Linked DNA regions of Homo sapiens: region 2 is linked to region 1. Evidence: fine-mapped expression QTL. Tissue or cell type: prefrontal cortex. Region 1 holds a variant in brackets; the other region holds the start of a gene. All regions are shown on one strand. Distances are between the middles of the regions.

Region 1 (10,026 bases):
CTCCTTAAGTCTTCTGAGGTTGGGGGCACAGAGCTCCGGGACATGCTCCATGAACAGGGGACACCCTTCTTTGATTCATTCTTTCCTTCAGCAAATGCCTCTGGCCCAGGCAAGTTTCAATGCATGAACAAGGCAGTGTGCATGCTCATGGAAAAGCAAAATAGTAAACACACAAGCAAACACAGACATAGCGATTTCAGGTCATAACAGTGAGGTGAAGACAAACAGTAGTGGGATGGAGTGGCCCTCTTAGCTCGTGTGGTCAGGCAAGGCATCGTGCCTTGTGATAGGTGACCAGGGACCCTATCAGAGTGAGGTGGTGAGCAATTTGAAAGTTTAAGGGGAAGACATCGGGCAGTGGAGACCAAGTCCTTAGGCCCAGAAGCAGAAAGCAAATAGTAGTAAATGCATTGTGTAATACGCTGGACATTATTTTTAGTGGCTTAATTTTTTTTTTTTTTTTTGAGACGGAGTTTCATTCTCATTGCCCAAGCTGGAGTGCAGTGGTGCGGTCTCGGCTCACTGCAACCTCTGCCTCCCTGGTTCAAGCAATTCTCCTGCCTCAGCCTCCCATGTAGCTGGAATTACAGGCGCCTGCCACCATGCTCAGCTAATTTTTTTTTTTTTTTTTTTTTGTATTTTTAGTTGAGATGGGGTTTTACCATGTTGGCCAGGCTGGTCTCGAACTCCTGACCTCAGGCGATCTGCCCGCCTCAGCCTCCCAAAGTGCTTGGATTACAGGAATGAGCCACCATGCCCGGGCTAGTGGTTTCAATATTTTACCTATTTAATCCTCATAGAACCCTAAGAAATGGTACCATTTTAATCCCCATTTTATAAAGGAAGAAACTACAAACCGGAGAGGCTAGGTCATTTGCCCAAGGCCACACAGCAAAACAACAAGCTATCACTTTTTTAATTTCATAGATCCTACCACATGCAGTGGCTTATGCCTATAGTCCCAGCAACCTGGGAGGCTGAGACAGGAGGATCACTTGAGGCCAGGAGTTTGGGAGCAGCCTGGGCAACATAGCAAGACCACATTTCTACAATTTTTTTTTTAATGAGTCAGGCATGGTGGCATGCAACTGTAGTCCCAGCTAATCGGCAGGCTGAGACAGGAATATCATTTCAGCCCCGGACTTCGAGGTTGCAGTGAGCCACGATTGCACCCATGTACTCCAGCAAGAACAACAGAGTGATACCCCGACTCTATAAAAACAAAATGAGCTATCATTCTTTGTTTCACGGGTCCAAATACTGGATTCTGGGGTAATAAACATTCAGTCCTTCCTCTAAAATCGTAAGAACATAGCTCAGCCTTTTATGTCAAGGAAAATCATATCCCACTGTTATCTCCCTGGGAGCACGGTGATGAGATCAGTCCTATCTTGCCACAATTCCAAATATTGGATGCCAACCAACAAAACATAAGTCCATTATTTAACCCTATTAAAACCTCTCAGTCAGGCGCGGTGGCTCACACCTGTAATCCCAGCACTTTGGGAGGCCGAGGTGGACGGATCACAAGGTCAGGAGCTTGAGACCACCCTGGCCAACATGGTGAAACCCCGTCTCTACTAAAAATACAAAAAATTAGCTGGGAGTGGTGGCACGCATCTGTAATCCCTGCTACTCAGGAGGCTGAGGCAGGAGAGTCCCTTGAACCCGGGAGGCGGAGGTTGCAGTCAGCTGAGACTGTGCCACTGCACTCCAGCCTGGGTGACAGAGCGAGACTCCGTATCAAAAACAACAACAACAAAATCCCCTCAACTATGTGGGCTGATTGGGTGGGCAACTATCTGGGAATTTAAAAAGTCTGAATCCTGGAATTTGTTGAGAGTGCAACTTTTTTGCCTTTTAAAAGAACAATTTTATTGTGGTATAATTCACATAACATTCAATTTACCCATTGAAAGTGCACAATCCAGTGGCTTTTAGTCTATTCACGGAATTGTACATCCATCACCAAATTAGAGAACATTCCATCACTACAAAAACAAACCTCATAGCCATTAGCAGTCACTCCTCATTCCTCTCTGCCCCCAGCCTTAGGAAACTATGAATTGTTTTTTATTTCTATGGATTTGCCTATTCTGGGCATTTTACATAATTGGAATCATACAATATTGATCATTCTGTGTCTGGCTTCCTTCACTTGCCATCGTGCTTTCAAGGCCCATTCATGCTGCAGGATGTATTGGTACTTCGTTCCTTCTTACTGCCAAATAACACTGCATGATATGGATGGACCCTATTTCATTTCTTCATTCATCATCGGGTGGCGTCTAGGTTGCTTCCACTTTTCGCTGTTGTGAACAGTGCTGCTGTGAGCATTCACGAACAGGTTTCTGGGTGGACGTCTATTCTCATTTGTCTCGGGTATATCCCAGGAGTGGGATTGCTGGGCACATGGTAACTCCACGTTTAACCGACGGAGGAACTAGGATGCAGCTTCATATTCTCAAGACATTTCCTGCCAACTACTGCACTTACACCTGGGCAGTGCCCTTGACACCAGCCAGGAGAGGGCGGGGCATTACGTCACACAAAAATTGGTTGGCTTTCCCTGGCCACCTCCTTTAGATGGTCAGAAACATCTTTATTTACTAGCAAATTAGTGGGGATGACAGGCTCTAATTCAGGTCACTGTATTGCTGGAAAGTATTTTGAAGGGCTGGCATCGTTTTGCCTCCTTTTGAAGTAGTAAGCCTACACACACACACAGAGCACCTCTGGGAATTCAGACCCTTGGAATGAACTATGTGGCTTATTCTTGGTGAGAGGAGAGAGTCAGATGGATGTAAGTAGATTTCTTCCTTCATAAGCAAAGCCTACGTAGCATCGCGTCCACTTCCCAGGGGCCAGGCCGGTCGGCCTGAGTCAACCCAGGGTGCAGCCACCCGCGGTAAGTTCTGGTTGTGGGCACAGGGCTGCTTCAGAGCCAGGAAAGACCCAGAACAGGCTAGACAGGCCCTGCCTCCTCCCCACCCCCACCCCAGAGGTCCTGCAAACACGTGTGTCCTGTCCATCTGCAGGGAGAGGGGGCCGAGGCCCCTCGGAGGAAGTGGGCCGGGCCTGGCCAGGTGCTCGCCCTCTCCCGAGTCAGGGCTGCACTTAGATGACGGCAGACTTCCAGGTGGGAAGTGCAACATCCTGGCGTCTTAGGGGCCCGTCCAAAGATCCAGATGTTTGGCGCCAACAACCCCCAAACCCGGGTGATTGAATCTGACACTTTTTTATAGAGTGTAGGCACAGCTGGCCAGAGGAAGCTTGTCTGTATCCATTTCTTCTCTCCCAGCTCCAGTGCGCTCCCGAGTTCTGATTCCAGGCAACTTTTGGCAGCTCATTTTTTTATTCTTACGCTGGGAAAAACTCAAGAGTCCCCACCTCCCATTTCTATAAGAAGGGACGCTGGGGATCTGGCCTATTTGATGGAGAGGTGGGAAGGGGATGTGGATGAAATTAGTGCTGTAGGAGACGGGGGTCCTGCATTGGATGGGTCTCAGCGACAGAATCTTTGTGGCCACTCTTATTTCTAGGTTTCTAGGACCATAATCCAAGTTCCACAGAACCCCCAAGAGGCCCAGAGGCAATGCCTTAGGAGGCCTCAGAGAGGGAGAGAGACCAGGAGAACATGAATCTCCTTTTTTCCAAATCATTCTTCTCCCAGCACCCCAGCATCCCTGGGGTCCCCAGTCTGGCCCCATAGGCAAACCACCTGTCGCTCCTGGGACACACCTTGCACTCTCCACCTCTGCAGCTCTCCTCTTCTTCCTCGCTGCTGACCTGTGGATCTTCATCATCTTTCTCAGCTCCAGTGCTCCTTCCTTCCTGCAGCCTTCTGGGAGCACCCCAGTAGACTAATTGCCTTCTCTTCCCCAAGCCCATGGACTAGGATGCATTTCTGTGGCGCACTTCAGCTAGCAAGTCTTCCCACGGACAGGGATGGCCAATCACCTCTGCAGCTTCCCCAGCCCAGGGCCCTGGACGTGACAGCCACACTTGCTCAGCGGAAGTTCGTTGACATGAAGTGAAATGCAAGGGGAATCTGTTGGGGGGTGAAGAAAGAGCCAATCTGGAGCCACCCGATAGGGCAAATGCCTCGAGACGGACACCTGTAGTTTGGGGGCCCTTAGACCTGCCTCCCCTGACGTGTTTAAAAAATCATTACATTGCCAACTGTAAGAATTAGGAGATCGCACTTAGGAATCCAGGTATTCAGCTTTTGGCAATAAATAAGTAAATAAATGAATCCCAGCAAGAGAAACCAGAGATGATCAAGGCCCGCCCACGAGCCAAGGCCCCATCCTGACAACTCAGTTGAGCGTGTGAGTTTCTGGCCTGCACCCGGTGGGTACCGAGTTGGGCATGCCCTATGCCAGTAGGTGCTGAGGAGAAGGCAGTTGCCTTGGGAATGGGCAGAAGGACAGGAATCTTTCCCAAATTTTACTTCAGGCCTGACTAGGATTTTAAGTCCACACCCGAGAGCTGCCCTTTACCTTCCTACCATGAAGCGCCTTCTGAAGAGGGTGACAGGCCATCCCCTCTGCCTGGCGTGCCCACATTCAGGTTCTGCCTCAGCCGGCAGCAGACCTGCCCTCAGGAACTCTGTGTAGCATTTCTGGGATGTTCTCCTGCTTTCCAGAAAACCAGAGTGGGTTGCCTGCAGGAGTCCCCACAGGCATGCGTGGAAGTGGTGACCGTCCCCAACCATCCCCTCCACAGAAGAGAGGCTCATGCCTTCGGTTTCTATTTCCTGTCAATTTGTGTCCATACCAGTCTGTTTAAGGATAAACTTAATTTATGTTAGTTTAAAAACATAAATAATGCTTGGGCTGATGAATGCGCTCACTATCTTGACCATGGTGATGGTTTCCTGGGGGTCTACCTATGTCAAAGCTACCAAATTGTACACTTCAGATAGGCACGGCTTGTTCTATGTCAATTATACCTCAGTAAGGCTGTTTAAAAAATAAAGGCAAGAGCCACCGTTTGAATTTAGTGAAAAGGTGGATGTGGAAGTGTCCACACAGAACCATGAACCTCATTTAGCCAGTGATTCTGTGTGGATGGTGTGATTGGCGTTTGGGAGAGCAGGTCAGTAGTGACGGGCCAGGGCAGGGCCCAGAGTACAGGGACCAGGCGGGTCCAGGTGCCCCCAGGAAACCCCATCTTTCTCTCTTGGCACATCCCTCTCCCCCGGGCCCTTCCAGGGCTTCTTTCTCACCTTTGTTTTGTCCAGGGATCTTCCAGTCCCTGGTGGGTGTCAACAGCTCCCAGCTGAAGAAGCAACACCTGGGGAGATCCTGCATCCCAGAGGCCTCTCTCTGGAAGCAAAAGGCGTGGGGAGAAACACCCACACCCCTCCTTTCCTCCTCTGTGCAGCCCCTCTGTCCTCTGAGAGAGGACTGCTGGGAGTGGCCACTCACCACTGCAGCTGTTCCCAGGGGTTCTCAGGGATCTGTTTCTGTCTTTGCTGAAGCCCACAGTGCACACATCAGTAACAGCATCTACCAAATAACTTATCTAAAGAGATAGAGGAAAGCAACTCTCAAGCTAGTAACAAAAGGTCACCTCTGTAGGGCAATCTCTGTCTGCCCTGCCCCTGCCCATTCAGCCCCTCTGATGGGCCAGGCACTGCACCAGCCCAGGGGATTGCTGTGCTGGGAAGGCCTCTCCATTCTGGTCACAGTGGCAGCCTGGGATCCCTGCTCTCCATCTCCCTAATGAACTGTGACTCTCCTGGAAAGCATCTGTTTTCACGAAACGTAACCACGGAGGAGTGGGCGAATGGAGAGGGGAGGCCAGAGGAGCTCCCTGGGAAGGCGCAGGCAGTGCCCTCAAGGCAGGTTCACCCTTTCTGCAGCCAGGGCTGCAAGGAGGGACAGGCAGGACTCGGGCTGCAAGGAGGGACAGGCAGGACTCGGGCTGCAAGGAGGGACAGGCAGGACTCGGGCTGCAAGGAGGGACAGGCAGGACTCGGGCTGCAAGGAGGGACAGGCAGGACTCGGGCTGCAAGGCATACTGAGGCCTCCAAGGGCCAGAGGGAGCTGACCCGCTTGCTCACCCTGGCTGGGGGCCACACCCTGGCACATCCCACAGCATTCCATATCATGGGGGGGGTTACCCTGCTGTTCCCTGGAGCTGGTCCCCTCTTAGGCATGGTGTGCTATGAGCAGGGCCTGGGACCCTCCTCAGGGGTCCTGGCTTTGTGAGGGAGAAAAAAAAATGTGTCTTCTACCTTCTTATGTTCAGTGACTGAGGTCCTGCAAATTAAACTGACAA[A/T]AGGCAATTAACAAGAGAAAAGAACAGATTTAATTATATACATATGCGTGGGCATTCACAAAGAAATGTGACTCTCTGAGGTGGTTAGCATTTGGAGCCTGTGTAACATCTTAACAAAGAGCCATAAATTGTGGAGATGTGGCCAGCATGGTGGCTCATGTCTGTAATCCCAGCACTTTGGGAGGCCAAGGCGGGAGGATCACGAGGTCAGGAGATTGAGAGAAGCCTGACCAACATGGTGAAACCCCATCTCTACTAAAAATACAAAAATTATCTGGGCATGGTGGCACATGCCTGTAATCCCAGCTACTCAGGAGGCTGAGGCTGGAGAATCACTTGAACCCGGGAGGCGGAGGTTGCAGTGAGTCGAGATCGTGTCACTGCACTCCAGCCTGGGTGACAGAGCAAGACTCTGTTTCAAAAAAAATAAAAAAATTGTGGAGACATGACAAGACAAAGGAAAAATGTTTTGAGCTTCTAGGGATGGCAAATGTGGAAAGGGATACATACGGGGGAAATAATGGAAGATAAGGGTTGTTAAAGGTTATGACTATTCAGGTTGGTGCCATCTCCGGTGATGAGTTGTGGCTTCTTTCTGGTACAGGAGAGGGGAGGAGGAATCCTTCACAAAAATGAATTTCTGGGCCAGGCACCGTGGCTCATGCCTGTAATCCCAGCACTTTGGGAGGCCGAGGCAGGTGTTGAAGGAGGAAGTCAGGAGTTCAAGACCAGCCTGGCCAACACGGCGAAACCCCGTCTCTACTAAAAATACAAAAATTAGCCGAGTGCGGTGGTGCATGCTTGTCATCCCAGCTACTTGGGGATCTGAGGCATGAGGATCTCTTGAACCGAGGAGGCTGAAATTGCAGTGAGCCAAGATTGCTCCACTGCACTCCAGCCTGGGTGACAGAGTGAGACTCTGTCTCAAAAAAAAAAAAAGATAAATTTCTGCCCTCCCTTGAGGCAGATGGGAGCATGGGGAGTAGAGAGCTTTTTCTGCATCTGGCTGTTTCTCAGTTGCCTTCAGCTCAAAATAATCCTTATGTCAAAGCGGCATCCTTTGGGGTGGCATATTCTGATGCTTTCACACTCCTGCCTCCGTGCCTGTGATCTCCTCATCATTCTGCCTTTGCTCCAGAAAGCCGTGCATGATGGTGCTGGGAGTCTGGCCACAGAGATGAGATTCCCAGCTTTGCCTGTCATCAGGGGTGACATCTCAGCCAAGGCCAGCCCCCTTCCTAGGCCTCGGTTTCCTCTTCTGTAAAGCAGAGAGGAACACGGTGCCTACCTCCTGGCGGGCAGTTACGAGCACTCCACAACAAGATAAGGTGAAGTAACAGCCTGTGTGCACCAGGTTCTCCTTACATACTAGCTAGATGCATGACAGAAAGCTACATTACAGAAAGGGACAATGATGTTCACAGTGACTTCTGAGCCAGGTAGCACATCACTCCCAAACACTGCCGTGGATATTCTCTCACTGAATCCTTATAATTATGTTCTTTTATGGATGAGAACAGGAGAGCTTAGAGACATTTGCTGCCTGGCCCAGGTCCCATAGCCCACGCCATGGCTCAGACTCCCAATCCCACGCTGCCTCAGACCCGGGCTACCCTGCCCTGGCTCACTGAGATGGTGAGTCCTGCTGTTCCTTGGATGGTGCCTGCAAGCCCCAGGGAGGTGTGGACGGAGGGGAGTTTTGCAAAGGGGTGGTGCTGCCCAGATCGGGGCTCCATATGGGCAGAGGGAGTTCTGGAAGGTTAGAGATTCCCCAAAAGACAAGCTGAGGAAGGGAGACAGCAGCAAGGCCAGGAGGGAGGCCAAGGAGGCAAAAGACGACAGGATCAGAAAGAGGCAGGCAGGAGGCCAGGGCAAGCTGCAGCAGAGGGGCAGACTCCGTGAGGTCAGCGCTGCGGGTGCAGGGTGCAGAGCTCGATGAGACCCGGGATGGTCGCAGCAGAAAGCCTGCGCCCTGGAGAACTGGAGGAGGCCTGGCGCATCCCCACTGCTGGCAGCTCCTTAGAGGCACTGGCTCAGCAGGAAGAGGAGGCCAGCCAAACACCGGGGCAGGTGGGGTGGGCACACAGGGAGCAGCGGGGAGCCAGATGGGGAGAGGAAAAGAAGCTGTCCCCAAACATGGGCAGAGCATCCTCACATCTGGTCAGCTACACATGGACGAGGACCTGTGGCTCTCAGGTCTGATGATCCCCAGCTCTGGGGAGGGCTGGAGCACAGGGGGCTCTCCCACTGCTGGTGAGAAGAGAAGCTGACCGTCTGCAGCACCTGCCAAAGTGAAGAAACTCAGTTCCACCCCCAGGTACTTTTCTGGCAGGCACTGTGCACAGGTGCACCTGGAGACAGGTAAGAGGATGTTTATGGGGCAACCTTCCTAAGAGCCAAAGATCAGAAGCAACCCCGAGTCCATCAATAGCAGAAGAGAGAAAACAATGGAAGAGAGAAAACAATGGTTGTGTTCATGTAATGGGCCATGCACGGAACTGCAATAGGAAATGAGCGAAGACCAGGCAATGAAATAGAAGGATCCCCCAAACACACTGAGCAAAAGAAATCAGGCACTGACGAGGACATGCCCAGTGATCCCAGGGGCAGAAAGAGGCCCAACTCAACTCTGGTGCTTAAGAACTTGTAAGTAAGTGATAAACATCATTAAAACCAAGTACATGACTGTCACAAAAGTCAACGCAATGGTTTCCTCTTGGGACAGCTGAAGGATTCCCAATGAGACAGGCTCTTGGGGGCACTCCTGAGTCAAGGCAATTAGCCGTTTCCTATGGCATAGATGTGCTTTCAAATTCTACGTTACGTGGCAAATATCTGCTATATGAGTTTTCTGTGATGTGTGACCAATCACACTTACACAACAAAGAGGGGTGGGGAGTGGAGAAGCAGCCATCACCTCACCTTTCAGGACCTACAGAAGGAAGGGTTGAATGAAGCCAGCTTCCCTGATCCAGTGATGTAGACAGAGTGAGGAGGAAGGGAAGGGCCTGCCTGGGGCCAGCTGTGATGTTCAGCATGAGGTGCTACCTGGTGGACATGCCAAGGTGCCACCAACCATCAAGTGGGCCACAGGAAACAGCTGTAAGATCTGTAAGATGCAATTATGTCAGGGAAATGGTGACTTCAGAAGGTAGGCAGGCAGGTGGGTGGATCATATTTGCCTATGGATATTGGAAACCTCATTCCACGTGGATATGAGTGACTGTAGGAAGAGGCCCAGCGTCACAAGCCCCTCGGCCCCGCAGGAGAGCCCAGAGCACCTCAGCTGTAGCTGAGAGCTCCAGAGCTGTAGGTGCCTTGTGCACCAGGGCGGTGGGAAGGCTTGGAGGGAGGAGCACCCAAGGTGTCCCTGTTCCAGACCAGGCGGTGTGCAGAGGCCCTGGCAGGGGACGATGCTCACAAGCCCCTAAGAAGCTGGGCTCAGAGAGGTCAGTGAGTTGCCCCAGGTCCAGGGGCTGCTCACAGGCACTACTGACTTTCAGCTCAGGTTTTCTTGGCCCCAGGAAGTTGTTCTTCCCACTATGCCATGTCATGACTCATTCATGGAGTGAATTTCTTGAAATACTTTTAGTTTCAAAAACTAATTCGAAACACCTTTTGTTGTTGTTGCTGTTGTTTTACTTTGAGGGGGGCGGTTAATGGGCTTTTACATCAATTGAGATTTTGTCTGAAGCCCTAAGTGAAGATCAGTTCTGCATTTGGACTTACCTGCCCATT
Region 2 (10,026 bases), 98 kb after region 1:
TGGTATTGAGGGGTGTGAAGTATTATGAGCAAAATTCACTGATTATATGGAGTGACATTTTGTTTACTTTAAAACAAAGTCTGACTTCTTGCTGCCTGATTTGAGTGCTGGCCTGACCAAGTATCTTCCAGGTCTGGGTGACCCAGGGACTTTTTCAGTCACTCAATCTTTCTGAGTGTTGGTGCCTTCCTCAGTAGATGTGAGGACACAACTAACACCTATGAGCACCAGAGGATGGCAGCTCCACGGGGCTTTTGTACCAAAGAGATTCTCTTCCCTAGTAGGACCTCATCATCCAATGAATCAGTGAGCTTACTCCATTTATTCCATCCCAGAGCTAGTTTTTGTCTTTGTTTTTTAACATACTATAAACCTGAGCACAGCGCATCAAGGTTATTTGATTAAGGTCAAAATAACAGAGATGGTGATAAGAGTTTTATGTCTGTGCTGCTCCGTTTATACAAAAATGAGATCATTATTCCACTTGAGTTAAAATTTTGCTCTTCTTGTCATAGCGATGGCCAACAGCCAGCTATGCTGCTTAGGATTAAGTTGGCCACATATAACAGAAAACCCAAATGGTGGGCTTTAATAATATAGGGATTTTCCTTTTTCTCACATGAAAAAAAAATCCAAGAAAAAATATCCAGGGATGAAGGGCTGGTTCCAGGGCCATCAGGGACCCACGTTCTTCCTAAGTGTCTCTTCCAACTTCCTTACCATGGAACTTGCATTTCAGAATTGCATTATGGTTACATGATGGCTGCTGGAGACCCAGCTCTCATGTCTGTGTTCCAGGCAGCAGAAAGGAAGAAGAGCCTTTCAGCTGACTCAGTCCCATGTAAAGAGTTTCTTTGGTCCTGAACTCCTGGCCTCAAGTGATCCTCCCACTTCGACCTCCCAAAGTGCTGGGATTACAGGCATAAGCCACCATGCCTAAGAGCTTCTTTGGAAGCCCAAACCAAAAACTTCAGCTTATACTTCTGCAAGAGAGGCTGGGAAATATGTTTATCAAAGCCCACTACCACCCTCGATAACATGGGATTCCACTGGCAAGAAAGGAGAGAACTATTGGGTACTCAACCAACTCTCTCGACCTTACCCTCCATGTTCTCTCCTGGCTGGGCCACAACTCTCATCCACTGGAAGACAGACCAAGGGGAAATCTCTGGCAGCTGTGAACTGGCAGGCTGTGTGTGTGTGCATGTGTGTGTGTGCATGTGTGCATGCATGTGTATGTGTGTATGTGTGTGTGCATGTGTGTGTGGCTTCACTGGGGCCTGACCCACAAATACCATGATGTCTCTTTGCTTTTATGTAATGAGTTCTCCGTTGGCTTCTGCCTGGTCCAAGACTGATTTGCCTCAGCCTAACATTGTGTAGTGAAGGCCTTTCCCAGGGCCAGAAAGGACTGGCAGGGCTGGAGAGAAAGCAGCTGGTGGAGCTGTGTGGTGGGCTGGCAGCTCCTTTCTCTTCACCTTGTTTGGGTGTTATCAGCTCCTCTTTCTCCAACCTGGGGTGCTCCTGCCTCGATATCATCAATCACTGATGGAAACTCGCAGGGAAAAGATTTGTTTGTGTGTTCCTTGAGGACAGAACAATGTTGTAGTATTTGATGGGTCTTAATATACGGTGAGCTTCAAAGGTAAGTAGTTGCCTATTCTAGTCAGGTTGAGGCGATACCGAATGACTCACATGAAACATGGAATTGACTTCATTGATACCAGCAAGGAGGTGCTCACAGTGAAGTCAGCCCTCCCTCACCACAGGGGCACATGCCACCCCCATTTTGTAGCCAAAAAACCTGAAGTTAGGTCGCCTCCCTGAGTCACCCAAGCACTGGCCTGAGTGCTGCACAGTGGGGTGACCGGGCTTCCCTACATCAAAGAACTACCCTCAGCCCAGGGGCCTGGCTGTCTAGGAAGGGTTCAGAAGGCACACCCAAGACTCAGGCCCCTGCCTCAACTCCACAACACTGAGGGAGGTGAGTAGACTGGGTGGGAGGGGCAGCTCTGCAGCTGGCCAGAGGCTGCGGGGACACAAGGGGTACTCAGCAGACCTGGGCGTCTCTCCACAAGGCTCAGGTACCAGATCTGAAATAACATGAAACACAGTAGGGGGTTCATCAACGTCATCATCATTATTCACTACGTTTGCTTCAGACCTCAACATCACCCACAGATGATTATGGGTTTAGAAATGGAATGAGGTTGAACTTAGGGGGTGACCACCTGACTTCTGTTTTATCTTTGTCTTTTATTCATGCTTCTTTTTACTGAGTGGTCATCCGCAAACAAGCCTGCAACATGACATGTCTTGGACTCAGCTCATTTGATGCACCAACAAGACAAACAGCAGACAACGGCAGCACCACAGAGCTGGAAACAAAATGAATAAATACTTTTTCACAATGAAATGAGCAGAGGGACTGTTGACTTGGGGGGCTCCCGCAAGCCAGAGACAAGTGGGGGGAACTTGCTGACTTCCAAGAAGAAAAGCCAGCAAAGAGGAACCAGTCTCCAGGAAGAATATGAAAATGAAGAGCTGGTATGTAGGTAGCACTTCTTGAGAGCCTTATCTTGCTTAAGCCTCCCCAAACACTGTAAAGTAAGTGGGAAGGAGATTATGGAAAAGAACACTGAAGTTCAGAGAGATCAATATCCCATCCAAGGGTGCATAGCTGGGACTCAGTTCAGGGATGTGAGCAGAAGGGGCTGGGCCTCTGCCATCTCCGATGCTCAGGCACCTCATCACTGAACCAAACACCCAGCAACCCACTGTGAGCAAAAATAAATCTTCCTCCTTCCCGGCCCCTGTGGTCCCTGCCTCTGAGGCCACAGCTAGGAGATATGGTTCCTAGGAAAGGCACAACGAAAAGGGATACTCCCGCCATTTTTGACCTTCAAAGCCCTTCGTGTCTTCACTATGCCCTATGCAGCCCCAGTGACATGGGACCACCCTGGGTCATAGGTGCTCACCTGCTTGAAAGAATAGGTCAGAGGAATGTCAGAGAAGCCCCTCCTCCCTGCACTGCACCACCCACTCTCACACAGTCTGGCCTTAGTTTCTCGACCGATGGTGATGTCTGGGGCAAGTGTCTGCACGCCTCTGTTTACTCACCCGTAAAATGGGGAGAAGCGCATTTGCCTCCACCCCTCCTGCCGATGGGAGCAGAGGTAGAGCCTGCTTGTCTGGACAAGCCCAGAGCTAGGCCCATCCTCCTGACCTGCTCTCTGGGAGCCACCTACTGTGACAAAGTCTATGGCTGAGTGCTCCAGTCTGATCTCAGGCTCCCAGGATCACGTGGGTATCAAACGGAGGAGCTGCAGGTGAGCCAGTCGGCATCTTTGCAACTGGCTCCTGAGACCAGACGCCTCGGGTCACAAGGATGTCTGAGTGTGAGGTGAGGTGGCTTTCATTCCTGACTTCATAGCCAACAAAGTGGTGACTGTCTATCTTTGACCAAACAGGCTCGACTATCTTCCCTAAAGGAGCAGAGTTCTAAGCTCAACCCCATTTGCCTCCCCCATCAATCCAGCAATTATTTAATTAACACAGTTTCCTCTATAAATTTTATTTCAGATTTTTTTTTAAAATCCTGGCAGTGACATAATTTCAACCATCAAGGACCCCCGATAAAGTCTCAGGATGGGAGTTCAGTTTGTAAAGCATCTCTAGTTGCAGCTTCCTGGGGCCTGCTGCACACACTGGCCTTGGGCCCCTGGCCTCCATCCATGCAGGAGGGGTTTGTCACTACTCCCTGACGGTCCTCTTGGGCTCAGGCACCCAAACGCTAGGGCTCAGCACCCAGCCGGGGGCCGTGGCATAGCACATCTGCCCAGATGTTTTCAGGAGATCTGAGTGGGAGCCATGGGGCCAGCCAAGAGGGCAGGGAGCCCCGGATTTGCAGAAGCAGCTGAGGAAAGAGCTGGCATTGCTCAGACTCGCCAGTGTTAGCCAGCCGATATCGGTCAAGGCTGCCCCGCTCGAGGGTCCATTATCCCCTTTCCCCGGCCTCAGCTGTGCACTCCAGGCCATAACAGCACAAGACCTTTCCACAACCCCAGGGTAAGGGTCAGATGTGGGGTTTCCAAAAGCTTCAAAACTTACCCCTCTATCCAGCTCTATCCAGAAGGACACCAGGGGACAGAGAGATGGACACGGAGGCCTCAAAACAGGAAAATAAGGAGACCCCTCCCCATTGTTGATTACTTGGGGTTACCTACAGAAAGAGATGAACTGAAGGGGCTGAGCCTATCTGAGGATTAAAGCACAGCTTTTGTCAGGAGTCCGTGCCTCCGGTCTTTGTTCCAGCGACCTGAGGAATGGCATGCATCAGAAGCCGCTTCCGTGTCTCAGATGGGGCCTGGGTCAAGTCCTGGGAGTTGATGGAGCGTTTCCCAAATCGCAAAAGGAGAGGAGCTAGACTTACCTCCCCCTCCTGGGAAGTAATGCGCGACAAGAATTTAAACTCTTAAAACGATTAGCAGCAAAGGTCTCATGTGCTTTTTTTTAATTATCATTTTTTAATCGAGGTATAATTTATGCATTTAAAAAATCAGATCAATTGCCCCCCGGGCTCTGGGATGGAAGGCGGTGTGCGCCTGCGAAGGTCAGAGGCCCAGCGGCGCCAGGGCTCCTCGGCGGAGAGCCGCCCGGGTCCGGCGCTTTGCTTTCGCCTTCTGCCCCACCGCGGGCGAAGCCCCAGGGCCCCGGGGAGACTCCAGGCCGGCTGGGCCGGGGTGCGCCCGCCGGCTGTCCGCGCTCGGGCAGGGTGGGGCGCAGCGGGCGTCTGTCCTGCTAGCGGGGATCGGGCGGCTGGACCCAAGAGCAGGGCACGTGCGCAGCGACGCGGGGCGGCCCCGCCAGGAGCCCCGACCCGGGCGCGGCGCAGGGCCCGGCGGAGAGCGCGCATTCCCGAGCGCCGCGAGCCGGCCGAAGTCGGGCGAGCGCGCCGTGCGGCGGCTGGGAGTGGGCTGCATGTGCCGCGCGGGGAGCCCGCCCGACTTCGGGGAGGCAGCGGGGCGCCGTGGCCCCGCGGCTCAGCTCCCTGCCGGGTCGGGTGTCCCAGCCCTGCGACTTCCGGGGCCCGGCGGCTCCTCGGGGAGCTCGTCCACAGGCAGCCTCCGGGGCGAGAGAGCGCGCGGCGCGGGCGCCGGGACGGTCCGCGGCACGCGGGTGGAGCCGCCGGCGCTCGGGCTCCCGCAGGGGCGGCGGGCGGGGCGGGGTGAGGCGGGCCGGCCGCCCTCCCCTCTCCTCCCTCCCGCAGCCCGCCCTCCCTTCCTCCGGTCCCGCAGCCAATTAGGCGGCCCCCTCGGGCGGGAGGCGTGGGGCGCTGCATAAAGCGGCGGGGAGCTGCCACCCCGGGAGCGGGCTGCGCAGTGTCCGGGCCGAGCCGGTGCGCCGCAGACTAGGGCGCCTCGGGCCAGGGAGCGCGGAGGAGCCATGGCCACCGCTAACGGGGCCGTGGAAAACGGGCAGCCGGACAGGAAGCCGCCGGCCCTGCCGCGCCCCATCCGCAACCTGGAGGTCAAGTTCACCAAGGTGAGGCGGGCGCCCCTCCCACCCGACGGCCGCGGGCCCCTGCGCTGGGCAGCCAGACTCGGGGCGGCGGGGGCGAGGGAGCAGCGGGCCGGGGGTCCGCCGGGCGCCGCCGAGACCCGAGCCTCCCTGCCCGGGCGCGGCTCTCCAGAAACCGCACCTTTCGCGGGACGTCTCGGGCGGGATCGCAGGCGGCGGGGCTCGGCGCTGTGAGCCTCGAAGCCGGGAAACCGAGGCCGTCCAGCGCCCGCGCGGGGCCGGGCCGCCCGCATCCCTGCGAGGCCCCGACGTGTCCCTGCGCTGCCCGCTTTGATCGCGAGTGGAGGTGCGCGCCGCGTTGACTCGGAGCGCGCTGGTTTTGGGGAGCTCCCTCCCCAAAAACCCCTGCGATGATTTCCAGGGTGGACGAGTCTGGCTTTGAGAGGGTCGGAGGGTCCGAGAGCGCCAAGAGAGAGTCCGGGAGGCAGATGGCGGAGCTGCAGTTGGAAGACTGGGGAAGCGGGTCCTCCGAGCAAAGCGCAGCGGGCGCCTTCCGTGCTTAGTTTATACCCGGCTCAGCAGCAGAACGAGGAGGAGTAGGAAGGTGCTCGCTTACTGACGAAACCTCCCCGGAGCCCAGAGGTCCCGGTGTTTACACACAAGGCGCGCGCTCCGGAAGGTCGCAGACCTGGGCCTTTGGGAAGCGGTGGGTCGCGAGGCCGCAGAAGCGCACGGTTCTCTGCCTCCTCGCTCTGTGGGCTGGGAGGCTACAGCGTTGGCAGAACGGCGAGATTACCTGCCCGGGGCAGAAAGGAATAAAAGAAGATGGTGAGGCCTCCGAGGCCTCTGAGCTGGGGCTGAGGAGGGCCGAGAGACCCGGGTCCGGGAGCGCGACCCGATGGAGGACACCCCCAGGCTGTCTGGCGTGCGCGTCTGTCGTGGGCCGGTGCTGGGGCACTTTAGAGGCACAGGCCAGGCCGAGAGCCATTGCCTTAACTTTCCCCACCTTTGGCTTCTCTTGATTTTTGCTTTTACCCATAGCCCCCAACTCCAGCTGACACCGCACTTAGAGAATTTCCTCATCCGTTTTACTTTAAGAAGTAGCAATTATCTTTCTCAAAGAATTTTAATCAAGCGGAGAAAGTTGCAGGGCACTATGTGTGGCCTTCAGATTTGGGTCTCTTGGCACTTAATTCCCAATGTCGGCTGAGCCTCTGATCACAAGACATTTAAATTAACTGTTTTCAGAAGGCTCTGTAATCAACAAAGACACGTCGCTGTAAACTAAACGCTGGAAATTATTCTTAATGTAGTTTTATTTGTAATATCAGCTTCAGAGTGAAAATTCCAACACGAATTCTGGGAAGAGTGAAAATGGTACCCGAATTTTGTAAGACCCTAACCCCAGGTGCTTGGCTGCTGCTACTGATGGTTAAGTGGGGAGGTTGTTTGTTTTCTTTTGGTTGTACAGGATTTCAAAATACTGTATATAGAAACCAGACAGTAAATGTATTATGGTCCTTTTACTTTTTATGTTTTTGAGTCCTATCAGCAATCTGACCACATACAAAAAGTTTACCTCTTTCTCTATGATTTTTAGGACACTTTTAAAGTGTAGATGTAGCCCTTATGGAGACCTTAGACAATTCACAGAGCAATGGTTGCCTGTTGTCTTGGTGGGTGCGCAACCTTTGCCAGTTAAAGGGAACCAGTGCAGGAATGAGGCTGAGGGAAGCTGGTGGATCGGCCTGGAGTGCTGGGATCTTGAGTGGTCTCCCAGGCGATAAAGGCCCCAACTGCCTGACACCGGCTGCTGGCTCCTCACCCGTTGGGGGACTGTGCTGCTGCCTGCTCTGTCCTGGCTCCTGGCCCATCTCTGCAGAGACCTCCCCATAGCAGTTGTGGACCCAGGCAGCTTGTGTGGCTGAGGGTGGCCAACCAGTGCCCTGGCACAGTCCTCAGGGAGACTGGACTGGAGAGGCGGCCGAGAGTGAGGCCACCAAGAGTGCCTGCCGAGGGAAGGAGCGGGATAAACTGAAGTGCAGGACTGAGGCCCAGAGTGGGCGAGTGGCCCGGCAGGTGGGTGGCCTGGCAGGAGAGCAGACGGTGGAGCATGGGAGCCAGCAGTGGTCTGCTATTTTCCAAAATTGACTCATGGTGCTTCTCGATAATGGGGCACACACCAGAGTTGGTCCATCTGAGCCCTAGCCCCGGCAGTGCCATTTCCCAGGGTGGTCCAACTTTCAGGATGACTTTGTCAAAGCCCCTTCATTTGTCCTCACATGTTAACATTTCATTCTCTAGGGTCATGCTGTGTGATTCTGGAGAGCTGAGAGCCCCTCCAGGGTCCCCACACAGATCTCAGAGGATAGAAGTCCCTTCTAATTTAGAGGGCCTCTTTCTTTCCTTATAAAATTTCTTCCAGTAGCAGGGATTCTCTTCAAAGTTTTCTGATTTTTAAAACACCGGTTTTTATTATCTCTCTTATGAAAAATAAAATTCCCCCAAATCTCCTTTTCTGAAAACATATTCTTTTTGAGTTTAGCTGAGTGGCCTGTTGTCAGATGGAAGTTACGGGAAATCGGCATCAATAGGATTCACTTGTATGACTGTCATCTTCACCTCTGCCTGAGACACCTTACAGCTCCGTCCTGCTTCCATGTCATTCTGTTCCTTTTGTAAAATGTGAACCAGGTCTACAGCTCAATGTAGCTTAATGCTATACCTCTATAAGGTTTGTTGTATGCTAATCCACAAATCAAAGACAACAATTCCTTCTAGACCCTTTACCCTGATTTGGAGTTCAAAACAATACAGCCAGCATAATCAGTAGACCATATTTATATACCCTTTCCTTATATTTGTGCTTTTGTTTTGTTTTAATGGAGAGAAAAATCAACAGTAGAAACCACTTACAAGATTACTTACTACTGTAGTGTGGTATAAAGTAAAAGATTTTACAAAATTAAAAACATAGTGATGGGAAAATATGGTTAGAGTCAAACAGTCTGATTTTTTTTTAAGGTTGCTGGTTACAGATCAATGTCATGAACAAACAGTAATTTTTTTTGGAGGAGCATGCTTGGAGATGAAGTATAGCAGTATAGCAGACATCCGATCATTGTAATCTGTTTTCAGCCCCCTTATTTATATTCTCTTCTGCCACCTTCTCATTTTCCCTCCCCCTTGGAGTTGATACCAGGAAGGACCTAGAATCAGCAATTTTCACTGACAGTCTCTATTATCTAACCCACGAAATTTCATCTTTCTACAAATGGGCCCCTCTTCCTGGCTGCACTTTCCTCCCCGCACTAACTTAACTCTTCTTCCTCAGTTATTAATTTCTCGCTGTTACCAAGTGATGACTTGCTGGATGGCAAAAGTGAACTCTTGGATTTAGTTTCAGCTGGAAGAATAAACCTGTAATTGTAGCCTGGCCTTTTCCTGGTGCGCTTCCCTGGGGGCCTGGCCTCACATTGGAGACGCTAAGCTTCCAGAAGCCAGACAGGCAAATCCCAATGGTGACCGATGCTCTCAGTTCTGGATTCCAAACTGGGGGGCAGCTGGTCTCTGCTCACCTGCCCAGCCAGAGTCTGCCTCCTGTGCTTGGTCCCCAACCGACTCAGACCAGGCTTCCTCACTATGAGCTTCAGAGGTTTTTGTGGGTTTTTTTTTTTTTTAACATTCTATCAACTTTTAAGTTCTGGGGTACATGTGCAGGATGTGCAGGTTTGTTACATAGGTAAACATGTGCCATGGTGGTTTGCTGCATGGATCAACCCATCACCCAGGTATTAAGCCGGAGCTGTGGAGTTTATACAGGAAGCCCAATACAGAGAATGTAACCAAGACTCATGCTTAGGAGATGGCTGCCCTCTCTCATCTGTCATCACTGGGGAGTCAAATGTTTCAAATGAATCAATTTCACAATAATTGAAATTAGCCCTTGAGGGACGCAATTCTTCCTTTAAACAATTCAAAAAGAAGCAAAGTAAAGCTATGTATACCACATGCAGATAGATGTAAAAACGGAACCTGATGAACTAATTCTGTACTCAGAAATTACTGACGGCATTTTACTTGAGAGACATGCGTGTCAGCCATTTCTGCCACGGGGGTTCTTCTGATGCTGTGATAGGCTGTGATGAGGAAGCCATTCCAAGTTGGTGTAGCAGGAGTTTGTGTGTCTTCTGGCTGGGCAGCCGGGGACCTCCGTGCTGTCGGAATGTGTTTTGTATATTGTCTGTCATGTCTCTTCCTAGTTTTTTCCAAAAGCCCTCTCTTTTAATATGACATTAATAAGACAATTAGAACTTAGTGTAAACTAACAGTAAATAGTACATATGTTTCAGTGCATGGACTTCGTATGTTCTTCTTAGTCTGCTCATGATGTCTTTTGTCAAAAAAACTTTCATTCTCATCTGCATTCTGGATCATTGAGGTTCCCAGAAAAGTGATTTCTGCGGGTTATATAAACAGTTATTTGCGACATCTCTTAATGTAACC

Direction of the effects. Positions count from the first base shown, and alleles are read on the strand shown. Sizes are in standard deviations (SD) of each study's normalised expression.
In carriers of allele T in region 1, the expression in prefrontal cortex of the gene that starts at base 5,369 in region 2 tends to be lower than with A alone (small effect, 0.36 SD a copy in CommonMind).

Evidence for each region. PIP is the estimated chance that this variant, and not a neighbour inherited with it, causes the effect. A credible set is the group of variants that fine-mapping cannot tell apart.
Region 2: it holds the start of ALDH1A3, and the variant in region 1 is the best candidate, but not a certain one, in a credible set for the expression of ALDH1A3 in prefrontal cortex (CommonMind, PIP 0.86).

What each region holds. Positions count from the first base shown.
Region 1 is chr15:100,776,049-100,786,074 of GRCh38, forward strand. The region is part of intron 2 of LOC105371024 (a long non-coding RNA gene); the gene reads left to right. It overlaps LOC440313 (protein enabled homolog), which reads right to left and starts at 8,437. Exons shown (of 1, transcript XR_001751715.2): 1 at 7,913-8,437. RefSeq lists an enhancer at 6,022-6,651. The variant A/T (reference allele first, on the strand shown) is at 6,289.
Region 2 is chr15:100,874,463-100,884,488 of GRCh38, forward strand. It overlaps ALDH1A3 (aldehyde dehydrogenase 1 family member A3), which reads left to right and starts at 5,369. Exons shown (of 13, transcript NM_000693.4): 1 at 5,369-5,544. The coding sequence starts at 5,446. It overlaps LOC124903575 (collagen alpha-1(I) chain-like), which reads right to left and starts at 5,341. Exons shown (of 1, transcript XM_047433433.1): 1 at 4,484-5,341. The coding sequence starts at 5,341. The coding sequence ends at 4,559. It overlaps GCAWKR (gastric cancer associated WDR5 and KAT2A binding lncRNA), which reads left to right. Exons shown (of 4, transcript NR_160703.1): 4 at 1-2,416. RefSeq lists a silencer at 5,290-5,409 and an enhancer at 5,901-6,415.